4 linked regions of the Homo sapiens genome follow. The protein of the gene in region 1 purifies or fractionates together with the protein of each later gene. This does not show direct contact. Each region holds a gene or a part of one and is shown in the gene's direction. Other genes may lie near its edges.

Evidence for each region. Proteins that work in one complex are often made in the same cells at the same time.
Region 2: the proteins of CDH2 (region 1) and PCDHGB1 purify together in Homo sapiens (co-immunoprecipitation; one large-scale study listed by IntAct). This does not show direct contact.
Region 3: the proteins of CDH2 (region 1) and TSPAN14 fractionate together in Homo sapiens (co-fractionation; one large-scale study listed by BioGRID). This does not show direct contact.
Region 4: the proteins of CDH2 (region 1) and NAA25 purify together in Homo sapiens (co-immunoprecipitation; one study listed by IntAct). This does not show direct contact.

Annotation. Positions count from the first base shown.
Region 1 is NC_000018.10:27,995,631-27,999,130, reverse strand, and holds part of CDH2 (cadherin-2 isoform 1 preproprotein), read left to right. Parts: intron 1-3,500. UniProt on the Homo sapiens protein: Calcium-dependent cell adhesion protein; preferentially mediates homotypic cell-cell adhesion by dimerization with a CDH2 chain from another cell. Cadherins may thus contribute to the sorting of heterogeneous cell types.
Region 2 is NC_000005.10:141,353,099-141,356,598, forward strand, and holds part of PCDHGB1 (protocadherin gamma-B1 isoform 1 precursor), read left to right. Parts: intron 1-1,922; exon of another isoform or gene 1,923-2,009; coding exon of another isoform or gene 2,010-3,500. Other genes in the region: PCDHGA4 (protocadherin gamma-A4 isoform 1 precursor), read left to right, coding at 2,010-3,500. UniProt on the Homo sapiens protein: Potential calcium-dependent cell-adhesion protein. May be involved in the establishment and maintenance of specific neuronal connections in the brain.
Region 3 is NC_000010.11:80,509,810-80,513,309, forward strand, and holds part of TSPAN14 (tetraspanin-14), read left to right. Parts: intron 1-2,334; coding exon 2,335-2,460; intron 2,461-3,500. UniProt on the Homo sapiens protein: Part of TspanC8 subgroup, composed of 6 members that interact with the transmembrane metalloprotease ADAM10.
Region 4 is NC_000012.12:112,070,784-112,074,283, reverse strand, and holds part of NAA25 (N-alpha-acetyltransferase 25, NatB auxiliary subunit), read left to right. Parts: intron 1-2,219; coding exon 2,220-2,389; intron 2,390-3,500. UniProt on the Homo sapiens protein: Non-catalytic subunit of the NatB complex which catalyzes acetylation of the N-terminal methionine residues of peptides beginning with Met-Asp, Met-Glu, Met-Asn and Met-Gln. May play a role in normal cell-cycle progression.

The DNA of each region.
Region 1 (3,500 bases):
TGTTCTCCTACATAACAGGCTAATCCTTACCCTCTGAGAGCCAGTTCTCAATCCCTTCTCTGATCACCCACAGTAGTCTCTGCATACCTCTATATAGACTGTGTTACACAGAAAGTATATCTGGATTCCCATTCTCAACATCCAGTGGGGCAGATATTCCTTGTCTCATTACCCTGAACATGAATTGTAAAGAAATGTTTAAGTTACTATACTTTACCTGAGTTCCACACCAGTCTTCTCCAAGGGGCACCCAGCACTCAAGGCAGGCAGATCAGTTGAGCCTAGGAGTTTGAGACCAGCCTGGGCCACATGGCGAAACCCTGTCTCTACTAAAAATACAAAAAATTAGCCAGGCGTGGTGGTGCATGCCTGTAATCCCAGCTATTCAGGAGGCTAAGGTAAGAGGATCACCTGTCACCTGAGTCTGGGTGGTCAAGGCTGCAGTGAGCCATAATCGTGCCACTGCAGTCCAGCCTGTGTGACAGAATGAGACCCTGTCTCAAGAACAAACAAGCAAAAAATACTTCCACTCCTTCCTTGTCCACTTGAAGTCCGGCTTTCCACCTGCTTCCCCCGCTTGACCTGTGCACATGCTGCATGTGTGCAGTACTCTTACCATCTTAGAGGGCACTCACGTAGTGGATTGGTTAACGGTACAGATTCTTGACCATACCTGAGTTCAAGTCTATTATCTGCCTCTTATGGCTGGGTGTCCATGGCAAGCTCCTTTACCTTCCTAAGCCCATTTCCTCATCTGTAAAATGGGGTTTCAAAACCCCACCTGCCTCATAGGATTATTGTGAGGACTAACTGAAATAATGCATAGTGCATAGCACTGTGCTGGGCACATAGTGCTCAAACTCAATAAAAGTTGTTTTTTGTTTTTAAATCAAGGCCCTTGGAACAGTGCCAGCATGTAATATGTATACAAAAGAAAGACCACATTTATAAGGTAGATGGTACTTTTAGTCCCATTTCACAGATGAGGGAAGTGGGGCTTAGCAGTTAAGAATTTGAACAGAGTTGGCCAGGAGTGGTGGCTCACACCTGTAATCCCAGCACTTTGGGAGGCCAAGGTGGGCGGATCACGAGGTCAGGAGATGGAGACCATCCTGGCTAACACGGTGAAACCCCATCCCTACTAAAAATACAAAAAATTAGCCAGGCGTGGTTGCGGGCGCCTGTAGTCCCAGCTACTCGGGAGGCTGAGGCAGGAGAATGGCGTGAACCCGGGAGGCAGAGCTTGCAGTGAGCCGAGATTGTGCCACTGCACTCCAGCCTGGGCGACAGAGTGAGACTCAGTCTCAAAAAAAAAAAGAATTTGAACAGAGTCACAAATCTATACTTCCCTCCTAAGTTTCGGTGACATTGTTATTCAACTCTCTGTCCCCAACCCAATTTATCTAGAGGCAAATCTGTCATCTCCTGAAACCCGTGATTTATGATGAATTTCCTATTTCACGTGACCAGGACCTTCTCCTCAGTCTCCCAAGGTCATCGTTTAATTGCCTTTCCCATGCCCTGCTGTCCCTCTACCTGCAATCTGTTTAGTCATCAAGTTCTTCTCTTTTTACTCAAAGTAATGACATTAAAAGTAATGGCAAAAACTGCAGTTACTTTTGCACCAACCTGATAGTTGGTATGCACTATTGAAGGTTCTTCATATTACTTCTTCCTACCATTTCTAGACTTGCACTCATGCATTTGGTGGCTCTATATGGTCCTGTGATCCTTTACTCTCTGCCTCCATCACTTAGTGAAAGCAAGGCTGTATCTCGTTTTGGTCACTGTTTTACCCAAGTAAATACTCCATTGCCTGGCATTTTGAAGACATTTCATTAAATGTCTGCTGTATGAATGACTGAATGTTCTCACCTCCTCATTCACTGATGTCACTCAGTGTTTCAAAATTGTGCTGCACGTGCATAAGATTTTAATTGGTAAATGCTGAGAAGCCTCTAGGACAGCAAGCGGACACAGCCTTTCACGTGCTACTTCATCAAGTAGAGACTGCCAGAATCCAAGAATTTCATCATGTTTATTTTTTACTGTCATATTTATGATAACTGATGCTAGCTTTCCATTTATGGGACTTTTACAATAAATTAAGCTTTAAAAAGGGAAATTAATGTCAATATAAATAGGAAGTGACTCATAGTATGAGGAAATGTTAGAATTGGGACTACTGTGCATGAATCACTGTGGTTTTGGGAAAAGGTGAGCTAGTTTATGCTCCCAGTATGGGTTTTAAGAAGTAAATTATAGCTATCCATGTGAATAGAAGATGGCTTTTTCTTTACCTGAGATAAGATCATGCAAAACCCAAGGTTTCTTATGCATTCACCCATCCATCCACCAAGTCAGAAGCATTTGTGGAATTCTTACTCTGAGTCAGGCACTGTGCCATATATGCCAGTGGCACAAGCATCAACAAAGCAAGGGCCCTTGGGACACGTGTGTGTGTGTCTGTGTCTCTGTATGCACACACATGCACAGTGAGGCAGATACAGACATACGACTGATAACAGCCATATAAACTATAAACAGTGATGGGGTGTGTTGTAAGGGCTCTGTCCTGAGGACACAAACAGCTCTTCCTCAAGAACTTTCAGAAGTCGTCTCCAAAGTGACTTGTAAGCTGCATGTTAGCCAGGCTTGGAATGAAGGGAATGGTATTCTAGGCAAGGGTTTCTCAGCCAGGACACTATGACATTTTTACTTGGTTATGAGGCCTGTCTTGTGCATCATAGGCTGTTTAGCAGCATCCTTGGCCTCTACCCATTAGATGTCGGTACTGAGTTTGGTTGTCACAACTAAGGAGTGCTTAGTTGTAACAACCCAAAATGTTCACTCTGTGTAACATCCACTTGTCTAGGCAGAGGAGAATGCCAAATGGAATGACACAGGATCATGACAGGGCATTTGAAGATAAATGCAAAACAGCTCCAGGTGTGGGGTAAGCGAATGGGAGGAATCACTTTTGTAAAATAGGCGAGTTTCGGAGAGGGAAGGATTGACAGCAAGCAGATGATTTTGGATTTTATTCCATATAGAGCAGGAAGGGAGGAGAAGTTTTCAAGCAGAATCCCCTTGATCAGCTGAGGTACTATGAGAGTGGGAAGTCGAACACTTAACGGAATCTAAATGTCAGTCATTCACAGCCAGATGCCCAATGACCAAATTAGGCAAGAAGCTCTAAGCAGTTCAGTTGTCTAAAACACAGGCTATCAAGCCTTCCTTACTAAATATAAGAATGTTTTAGCAATCTGGCATTTGAAAATGGAGATGACATTATTTACTATTTACCAAGTGGAATTTTTTTTTTATTTGAAGAGATATTGTACTTTGGAAATAACAAGTGTCCTTTTGTAATTTAAAATTTCCAGACTAGCTTGCAGCAATAAGAAATTTCAAGTATTAGCTACTAATTCCAATATTGCAGATCAATGGAAAATTATTGGATGTATTATGCTTACATAATTCTAAAGATTTTTGTAGAC
Region 2 (3,500 bases), on another chromosome or scaffold:
AGATAGATGGAGATTGCTTTCTTGATTGCTCAGTAGTCTTGGCAATTTAATTTTCAATCTTTACTGTTGGCATTTCTGTATGGTTGGCAAATCTTGCTAAAGAGACCTGTTTCCTAGATGTTAACACTTAGTAATAGCAGTGCCTTTTCTTAGTTGATATGCAATACTATATTTTCAAGTCATTTTATTCTTAGCTCTTTATAAATGTATTTAGAGTTCTTCCCACCCAAGTTAAAGTTCATCAATTACATTAATTATGTAATTGATGTAATTATGTATTAATGTAATTATGTAATTAATGTAATCTTCATCAATTACATTCTAGTTTGTCTTTTTGCAGCAACATGTATGTTTAATACAGCCTTCCAATTATTAAGACTCTTAACACTTTGTCTCATCACAAGTAGCAAATATTGTCCAATTTTATATTTGCATCACTAACTTTGAGTCAATATTATTCCCACTCTATAATTTCAGTCAATGATATTTCATAATTTTCTTAACCATTCCTAAATTATTTGTTTTTATGCTCTTTCTATTTTGTCTCTATTAAAACAAAGAATGTAATGAACATTTGGGTTTATAAAGCGTTTTCCATACTTCTTGTTTCTTTAGTGTAGATTTCTGAGGAATTAGTTAAATCTATAAACATGTTGAGATTTTTTTAATGCATACTGTCAAATTTATTTCCAAACATCTTATTTCACCTCTCAATCATCCGCAGTTTGTGCGGTCTTTGAGGATTGTGAAAAACACGTTTAATCTACTCTCTCAAAGTCTGAGGGTTTTTAAATTCTGTATAGCTAATGCCCTTTTGTATGAGTCATTTCTACTGCTAATTGTTAAGTGAGGAATAAGCTTAAGAACTGATGTACTGCTTTATCTCAAATTTTCACAGATTAGTAAATTACTGTAAGTATTCATAAGAAAGAAAGCGATGGCACATGCAATGATAATCCATGTTCGGCTACCAAAACATTTCCTTTTACTGGCTATTTCTAAAATGAGAGCTAAAGTAAAGTTAGAAATTGTAAAATAATACTGAATGTGTCATGTGAAAAAATCACTAAACTATTATCTGCACTTTATAGTTATTCAGTCTAACTTTTCTTTTTATTTCTTTTTTATTTTTAAGATCAGAGTTATTTACCCATTGTTTTAGGCTTTGCATTTGAACTGGTCATTCATGAAACATTGAAAGGTTTCATAAAAATTACTACTCTATGAAAGGTATTGTTCTAAAGATTGAGAACACATTGTGAACAAGATAGTCATATGCATAGCTTGTGGCCAAGAATCTACTGTACACAAAATTAAGGAGCAAATTCTCTTCCCAAACCTATTATCCTATTTGTCAATCTCATTTGTACAGGGTAAGGCTAACTCTTGAACAGTAGGTGAGTTTTTTGCAAGGGAATTGAAGCATTGCCCCAGGTTCTAGAGGGTCAACTCCTGTGAGGAAACTTGTTACTGCATAAATTGGGACTAAAGCCAGACCTCCAAGTTCCTGTCCCACTGTCTTTTCACTTATCTGTCTCATCCATTTTTCAAGTCCACCTTTGTCTTTAGGAGAGATAATTATGTCCCTCACACAATACGCTATACTGAGAATGGGCTGTGGGGATGAACAATGTGAAAACTGAAAAGAGGAAGAACACATCTTAGGAAAAAAATCGTCATATTTTCTCTAAGAAAATAAATAACTTCATAAAGTTTATTGTACAGGAAGACTTGGATCATTCTTGAATTTTCATTGCAAATCAAAAACAGGAATTTGACTTTATTATCTTGGGAGAAATAGGAATAGAAAAGTGTATAAAAAATAAACTTTTTTTAACCAAGAATAAATTGCAGTAACAGGTTAAGACTCTGGGTGTCGCTGTTCACCAATCAGGGGGAAAAGACAAACCAGAAATTTAATCAGAATCACAAGATTTCTGCAGCACAAAGCACTGGCTCTGGAGCTTTATGAAAGCTTCAAGCGGAAGCCCTGAGAGCTCTGGCTGTGAATGCACTTTATTTTGGACCCAGAAGATCCTGGGGCTCCTCAGGCCTCGACAGAGGGAAAACCGAAGCACAGGCGACTCCGCGGCGGGGTTGTAATGGCGGCGCCTCCTGCTCGCCCAGACCACACCCGGCTGCTCCAGATCTGCCTTCTCCTGGGGGTTCTGGTGGAAATCAGGGCCGAACAGATTCTCTACTCGGTGTTTGAGGAGCAGGAAGAAGGCTCAGTGGTGGGCAACATCGCCAAGGACCTGGGGTTGGCGCCCCGGGAGCTGGCGGAGCGCGGAGTCCGCATCGTCTCCAGAGGTAGGACGCAGCTTTTCGCCCTGAACCCGCGCAGCGGCACCTTGGTCACCGCGGGTAGGATAGACAGGGAGGAGCTCTGCGACAGATCTCCAAACTGTGTGACAAACCTGGAGATTCTTCTAGAAGATACAGTGAAGATTTTGCGGGTAGAGGTGGAAATAATCGATGTTAATGATAACCCACCCAGTTTTGGGACAGAACAGAGGGAAATAAAAGTTGCTGAAAATGAAAATCCTGGGGCAAGATTTCCTCTTCCTGAAGCTTTTGATCCGGATGTAGGTGTAAACTCCCTGCAGGGTTACCAGCTCAACTCAAACGGTTACTTTTCCCTGGACGTGCAAAGTGGGGCCGATGGGATTAAGTACCCAGAGCTGGTGCTGGAACGCGCTCTAGATCGCGAGGAAGAGGCGGTTCACCACCTCGTTCTCACGGCCTTCGATGGAGGTGACCCGGTTCGCTCTGGCACTGCCAGGATTCTCATAATACTTGTGGATACCAACGATAATGCTCCCGTGTTCACTCAGCCCGAGTACCACGTAAGTGTTCGTGAGAACGTTCCTGTAGGCACTCGGCTACTCACCGTAAAAGCCACTGATCCAGATGAAGGAGCCAATGGAGACGTGACGTATTCTTTCCGGAAAGTAAGAGACAAAATATCACAGCTATTTCAGTTGAATTCTCTGAGTGGGGATATAACAATATTGGGGGGTCTAGATTATGAGGACTCTGGATTCTATGACATAGATGTAGAAGCCCATGATGGGCCTGGTCTCCGAGCTAGAAGCAAGGTACTGGTGACAGTTCTGGATGAAAATGACAACGCACCAGAAGTCACAGTTACATCTCTCACCAGCTCAGTCCAGGAATCTTCTTCCCCGGGTACAGTAATTGCACTTTTCAACGTGCATGACAGTGACTCAGGAGGAAATGGCCTAGTCACATGTTCTATTCCAGATAATCTGCCATTCACACTTGAAAAGACCTATGGAAATTATTATCGGTTGTTGACACACAGAACACTGGACAGGGAAGAAGTCTCAGAATATAACATCACTGTAACTGCCACTGACCAGGGAACTCCTCCACTGTCTACAGAAACTCATATTTCACTGCAAGTGATGGACATCAATGACAACCCACCCACTTTCCCTCATGCTTCCTACTCTGCTTACATTCCTGAAAACAACCCC
Region 3 (3,500 bases), on another chromosome or scaffold:
GCATACCGTAAGGCACAGCTTCTTCCCCCCGGCTCATGACTCACCATCTGACGCTATTCCTATCCCCTTCCTCCCCGGGACCTTTTCCCCTTCCTCCCTGGGACCTTTTCCCCTTCCTGTTTAAGAAGCCAGGGCTGCCTGGAGGAAGCTTTGTCAGATCTAGTGGAATGTGACCTCCCTGGAATATGTGCCCAGGGGTTTGTCTAAGCAGTTCCAGGCTATGGCCTTTACTCCATCTGGTCCCCATCCCTCTTATCTCTCTCATGTGTGGCTGCACCTGGACGCTTGGACCATAGCTGTCACAGCCCCCTGGGGAGGAACCCACTCCTTGGCCATGTCAGCCTGTGCAATGCAAGGCTCTTGTTTGATCTGTGTGCTGACAGAAAGCCCAGCTTCCTTAAGAACTTTTCATGTGGAACACTTTGGTTTTGAGAAGAAAATAAATCAGAAACCATTAAAAATCTATGATTCACTCTCATTATTAACCAAAACTTGTTCACCTTTATTTCATGTATTATGGGATCCAGCAAAACCCATTTATGGGACCAAAGACCCTGCCTGTATTGTTATTACTAATGTGTATTAGTCTGTGAAAGTCACCAAATCCCCGCCATGTTTTGATGCCTCTCCTTTCTTTTCTGTTCAGTGCCACCGTCCTTTTTTCATTTTCACGTAGCCTTGGCTTGCCTGGTCTCAGCATGCTAGGTTGCGGTTCATCCCTGCATTGCCTTAAAAACATAGTTTTCTGCATTGACTTCTTTTTCTTTTAAAAATAAAACTTCTGGCCGGGCGCGGTGACTCACGCCTGTAATCCCAGCACTTTGGGAGGCTGAGGCGGGTGGATCACAAGGTCAGGAGATCGAGACCATCCTGGCTAACATGGTGAAACCCCATCTCTACTAAAAATACAAAAAATTAGTGGGGTGTGGCGGTGGGCACCTGTAGTCCCAGCTACTCGGGAGGCTGAGGCAGGAGAATGGTGTGAACCCGGGAGGCGGAACTGGCAGTGAGCCGAGATCACGCCACTGCAGTCCAGCCTGGTCAACAGAGCAAGACTCCGTCTCAAAAAAAAGATAAAATAAATAAATTAAAACAAAACAAAACAAAACTTCCCAGGGGAGGGATTCAGTAAATTACAGAGCTTCCTTGGAGTGAAATTTCAGGTAATCACTAAAGCAAGTGGAACCGTGGAGGTGTGGGGGAGACAATTTTACCTGAGAAGTAAGCAAAACAAAATAACCAACCAGAAATCACTGTTGTCATTTGTTGTGATTATTGCCATAACCATGTCAGCTGTAAGGGCAAATGCAAAGAAGTTTTTTAGGGGAAAAGACACTGTCAACTTCACAATGATGCTTTCAGTGTTTGGATTTTACACACTTTTTAGTCAAATAAGGATTTTCTTTGTAGCCACACCAGATGCGAGGAAGGGGAGGGCAGAGGCCCCAGGTGTGGGGCAGAGCTTTGATTGTGTTACCTTTCACCTTCATCGGACCTCTTTTCCTCAGGAGCAGACACTTAGCAGCTGTTTTTTGTAAAGGGGTGAAAAGGGGAATTCACTTGCAAGTTTCTCAGGGAGGAAGAACACTGCACACTAGGAAGTGTTCTCTTGTGGCAAGTAGAGGACCACACCAAGGTGCCGAGGGGGCCACAAAGGAGAGGACGCCACTCTCCTGTCTGAGGAGGCTGGAAGGAGGCGTCTCCTTTGAGGAGGCTGGGAAGAAGAGCAAGCTCCCTGCTAAGGAGGGCCAGGGCTGGGTATGTTGTGCCTGGCAGTGGGGCCAGAGGGCTCCACTGAGCCAGCCATGTGGGTTGGACAGAGGAGGCACCGTGGCCCGGAGATACCTTCACTGCCATTTCCTTTTTGTTATTATTTTCTTTAACACATCAAAAGGGCAGGTCCTCTCTCTCTCTCTCTCTCTCTCTCTCTCTCTCTCTCTCTCTCTCTCTCTCTCTCTCTCTCCCCTTTTTTCTTTCTCTCCTTTTCTCTTTCTCTCTCTCTTTCCTTTCTTTCTTTCTGATTGGGGGTGGGGGTCTTGCTGTGTTGCCCAGACTTGTTTCCAACTCCTGGGCTCAAACCATCTTCCCACCTCAACCTCCCGAGTCACTGAGGTTACAGGCCTGAGCTACTACGCCTAGCTGTTTTCTTCTTAAAGGGCTGCCTGGGTTGCCAGCTTAGCATCTCTGCACATGGGAGGTAGGGGGCGGGCCTTGATTTCTCTGCATGGTAGATGCCGGCAGACTTAGCCTGGCATCACTATGAATGATGCCCTATGCTGGGCAGCCATGGCCCTGTCTTGGAGCCCCTAACAGTTCTGGCTTTTGTGGTTGCAGAACCAGTGCTGTGGCGCATATGGCCCTGAAGACTGGGACCTCAACGTCTACTTCAATTGCAGCGGTGCCAGCTACAGCCGAGAGAAGTGCGGGGTCCCCTTCTCCTGCTGCGTGCCAGATCCTGCGGTGAGTTGGCTTGTGCTGGGGCACAGGGAGCCCGCCCTTCCTGAAGCCCAGAAGCTTTCCTGACTCCTCCAGTGCTCTAGGATACTTCTCTGTCATGGAGGTCTGAGGAGCAGGTGTGCTTTCTCCACACCCTCCTCAAGGCTGCCTCAGCTCTGAAATCCGATATGTGTACATTCTAGGAACACTGCTTGCATGACCCACCCTGGCCTTGGTGTTCTGGGTGAGGCAGGAGAAAAACAGTATTATTTCTACCTGGAGGGCTGTCACTTGCAGCTGGCCAAGAGCTATGAGTGAAATAAGGCCCGCTTATCCCTCTTCCCTGTCCTTTTTCTGGAGCAGATTCCTAGAACTCAACAGTGCACGGGGGCTGTGGGTACACATCATTAACTGGGGAACAGTAGTGGAGAATTATTTTCTTTCTTTTTCTCTTTCTTTTATTTTTGAGACAGGGTCTTGCTGTGTCGCCCAGGCTGGAGTGTAGTGGCATGATCTTGGCTCACTGGAACCTCTGTCTCCTGGGTTCAAGCGATTCTCCTGCCTCAGCCTCCTGAGTAGCTGGGATTACAGGTGCACGCCACCACACCCGGCTAATTATTTTCTGTTTGTTGTTGTTGTTGTTGTTGTTGTTGTTTGGTTTTATTTTAGAGACAGTGTCTCACTCTGTCACTCAGGCTGGAGTGCAGTGGTGCGATCTCAGCTCACTGTACAACCATTGCTTCCCCGGGCTCAAGCAATTCTCCAGCCTCAACCTCCCAAGTAGCTGGGACCACAGGCTTGAGCACCACACCTGGCTAATTTTTGTATTTTTTGTAGAGATGGGGTTTCACCATGTTGCCCCGGCTGGTCTTAAACTCCTGGGCTCAAAGCGATCTGCCCATCTTAGCCTCCCAAAGTGCTGGGATTACAGGTGTGGGCCGCTGTGCCTGTCCTGTCCTTTCTTTACCTATTGGCATTCCCAATCCAAGGCCAACGTCCTTGGGTTCCAGAAGCTGGGTTCTTGGGGTGAACTGTGAAGGAGCTCTGAATTTTGCCTGAACTGA
Region 4 (3,500 bases), on another chromosome or scaffold:
CTGCAACCTCTGCCTCCCAGAAGCAAGCGATTCTCCTGCCTCAGCTTCCCGAATAGCTGGGACTATAGGTGCCCACCGCCGTGCTCAGCTACTTTTTGTATTTTTGGTAGAGACGGGGTTTCACCGTGTTGGCCAGGCTGGTCTCAAACTCCTGACCTCAGGTGATCCACCCATCTCAGCATCTCAGCCTCCCAAAGTGCTGGGATTACAGGTGTGAGCCATTGCGCCCGGCTTAATTATTCTTATATTTAATATAAAAATGGGATTGTATTAGACACGATTTGCAACCTGTTATTTTTCAGCCTTGAAATATATCTTGAACATCTTTCATTTCTGGTACATGTAGATCTCTTTCATTTTTTTTCCCCCCAGTGGCTTAAGAGTACTCCAGATGTACCATAATTCATTTAGCATTTTCCCTATTGATGATACTTGGATTTTTGAAGATCTCTTTTTTTTTCCTTTGTCCTTTTGTTATTGGCTATTGTAGGCAGTACTACAATAAATTTTTTTTCCTTTTTATAGGCATCTAGAGTTAAATGAATAAATGGGGCCGGGCACAGTGGCTCACGCCTGTTATCCCAGCACTTCGGGAGGTGGAGGCGGGCGGATCACAAGGTCAGGAGATCAAGACCATCCTGTGAATGGTGAAACCCCATCTCTACTAAAAATACAAAAAATTAGCTGGGCGTGGTGGCGGGCGCCTGTAGTCCCAGCTACTCTGGAGGCTGAGGAGGGAGAATGGCGTGAACCCGGGAGGCGGAGCTTGCAGTGAGCCGAGATCGTGCCACTGCACTCCAGCCTGGGCGACAGAGCAAGACTCCCTCTCAAAAAAAAGTGAATAAATGGGATCTTTTAAAAAATTAATACAGAAGTAAAATTCAAGATGACAGTTATGAGCTGATGCTTGCTTCGTAATATTAACTAGGTTACCTAATTTTTCTCAGTTTTCATTCTTAAAGCAATAAAATGTACAAGACCCCATCTCAAAAATATATGTGTGTGTGTGTGTGTGTGTGTGTATTTAATTTTTAATTTTTGTTTTTTTTGAGACAGGGTCTCACTCTGTCACCTAGGCTGGAGTGCAGTTGTGTGATCTTGGCTCACTGCAACCTCTGCCTCCTGGGCTCAAGTGATCCTTTTGCCTCAGCCCCAAAAGCAGCTTGGGACTACAGGCATGAGCCACCACGCCTGGCTAATTTTTGTATTTTTTGTAGAGATGGGGTTTTACCATGTTGCCCAGGCTGATCTTGAACTCGTGAGCTCAAGTGATCCACCTGCCTTGGCCTCCCAAAATGCTAGGATTACAGGTGTGAGCCACCGTGCCTGGCCTTTTTTTCTTTTTGAGATGGGGTCTTGCTCTGTCACCCAGTCTGGAGTGCAGTGGTGTAATCTTGCCTCCCACTGTAATCTCTGCCTCTCAGGCTCAAGTGATCATCCCACATCAGCCTCCCAAGTAGCTGAGACTACAGGTGTGTGCCACCACAATTGGCTGCTTTAAATTTTTTGTAGAGATGGGGTCTCCATGCATTGCCTAGGCTGGTCTCAAACTCATGGGCCCAAGCAGTCCTCCCACCTCAGCATCCCAAAGTGCTGGGATTTTAGGTGTGAGCCACCACACCCAGCCTTATATTTTTATTAGGCAATTTTTTTTTCTTTTCTTTTTTTTTTTTTTGAGATGGAATCTCTCTCTGTCACCTAGGCTGGAGTGCAGTGGCGTGATCTCAGCTCACTGCAACCTCTCCCTCCTGGGTTCAAGCGATTCTCCTGCCTCAGCCTCCTGAGTAGCTGGGACTACAGGTGCATGCCACCACGCCCGACTAGTTTTTTATACTTTTAGTAGAGATGGGGTTTCACCATCTTGGCCAGGCTGGTCTCGAACTCCTGACCTCAAGTGATCCGCCCACCTCAGGCTTCCAAAGTGCTGGGATTACAGGCGTGAGCCACCACGCCCAGCCAGGCAGTATTTCATATATACAAAATTATGCATTCTTTTTTTAAAAAGGTAAGTTATGCTGCAGTAATCAAATGCCAAAATTGAGAGTAATCTTATAACATGTTATCTGTTAGAATATGTTCATAGTTCTCTTTTATTCCTTTTTCTATTATTTTATATTATCAAAGTCGTTTTTCTCTTTTTAAATGAGTTTGGCTTGACTTTAAGCTTCGGGAAGGACAATAGAGGCAATAAAATTCCTTTTTCATGTGCTTTTCCTCAGCTCTTTAGAAGGAGAAGTACATTATTCTGCAGAAAAAGCTGTGAAGTTTATAGAAGATCGGATAACGGAAGAATCTAAAAGTTCTCGCCATCTCCGAGGACCACATCTAGCTAAATTGGAGCTGATTAGGCGTTTACGAAGTCAAGGTTGTAACGATGAGTACAAACTGGGTAAGAAACCATGATATCTGGTAAGCCTGGAGAATGCCCTTAATACCCAAGTGCTATATTCATTAGTTGAGATCTACACTGGACAGAGTCATGTTTGGGAAGCAGATGTCTTCATAGCCTGAAAATATTTGCTAATGAATGGATCACTTATAAAATTAGTCCTTTATCATATATTCACCTTGGCTTAACATTAACTTATCTCCCTGTTCCGTCAGAGTCTTTGTCAGGCATTCTGTTGCTGACCCAACAATAAAGTCAAAATCAGCTGGTTGCGGTGTCTCACGCCTGTAATCCCAGCACTTTGGGAGGCTGTTGTGGGTGGATTGCTTGAGCTCAGGAGTTGGAGATCAGCTGGGGCAACATGGTGAAACCCCATCTACAAAAAATACAAAAAAATTAGCTGGGCATAATGACGCACATCTGTAGTCCCAGCTACTCAGGAGGCTGAGGCAGGAGAGTCTCTTGAGTCCAGGAGGCAGAGGTTATAGTGATCTGAGATCGTGCCTTCACTCCAGCCTGAGCGACACAGCCAGAACCTGTCTCAAAAATTTAATTTAAAAAAATAAAAAAACCTGGCTGGGTGCATTGGCTCACACCTGTAATCCTAGCACTTTGGGAGGCCGAGGTGGGCGGAACACCTGAGCTCAGGAGTTCAAGACCAGCCTGGCCAACATGGCCGTAACCCCGTTTCTGCTAAAAATACAAAAAATTGGGTGGATGTGGTGGCTCATGCCTATAATCCCAGCACTTTGGGAGGCCGAGGTGGGCGGATCACCTGAGGTCAGGTGTTCAAGACCAGCCTGGCCAACATGGCCGTAACCCCGTTTCTCCTAAAAATACAAAAAATTGGGTGGATGTGGTGGCTCATGCCTATAATCCCAGCACTTTGGGAGGCCAAGGCGGGCGGATCACCTGAGGTCAGGTGTTCAAGACCAGCCTGGCCAACATGGTGAAACACCGTCTCTACTAAAAATACAAAAATTAGCCAGGCATGGTGGCACACGCCTGTAGTTACAGCTACTTGGGAGGCTGAGGCAGGAGAATTGCTTGAACCTGGGAGGTACAGGTTGTGATGAGCTGAGATCTTGCCGCTGCACTCTAGCCTGGGTGA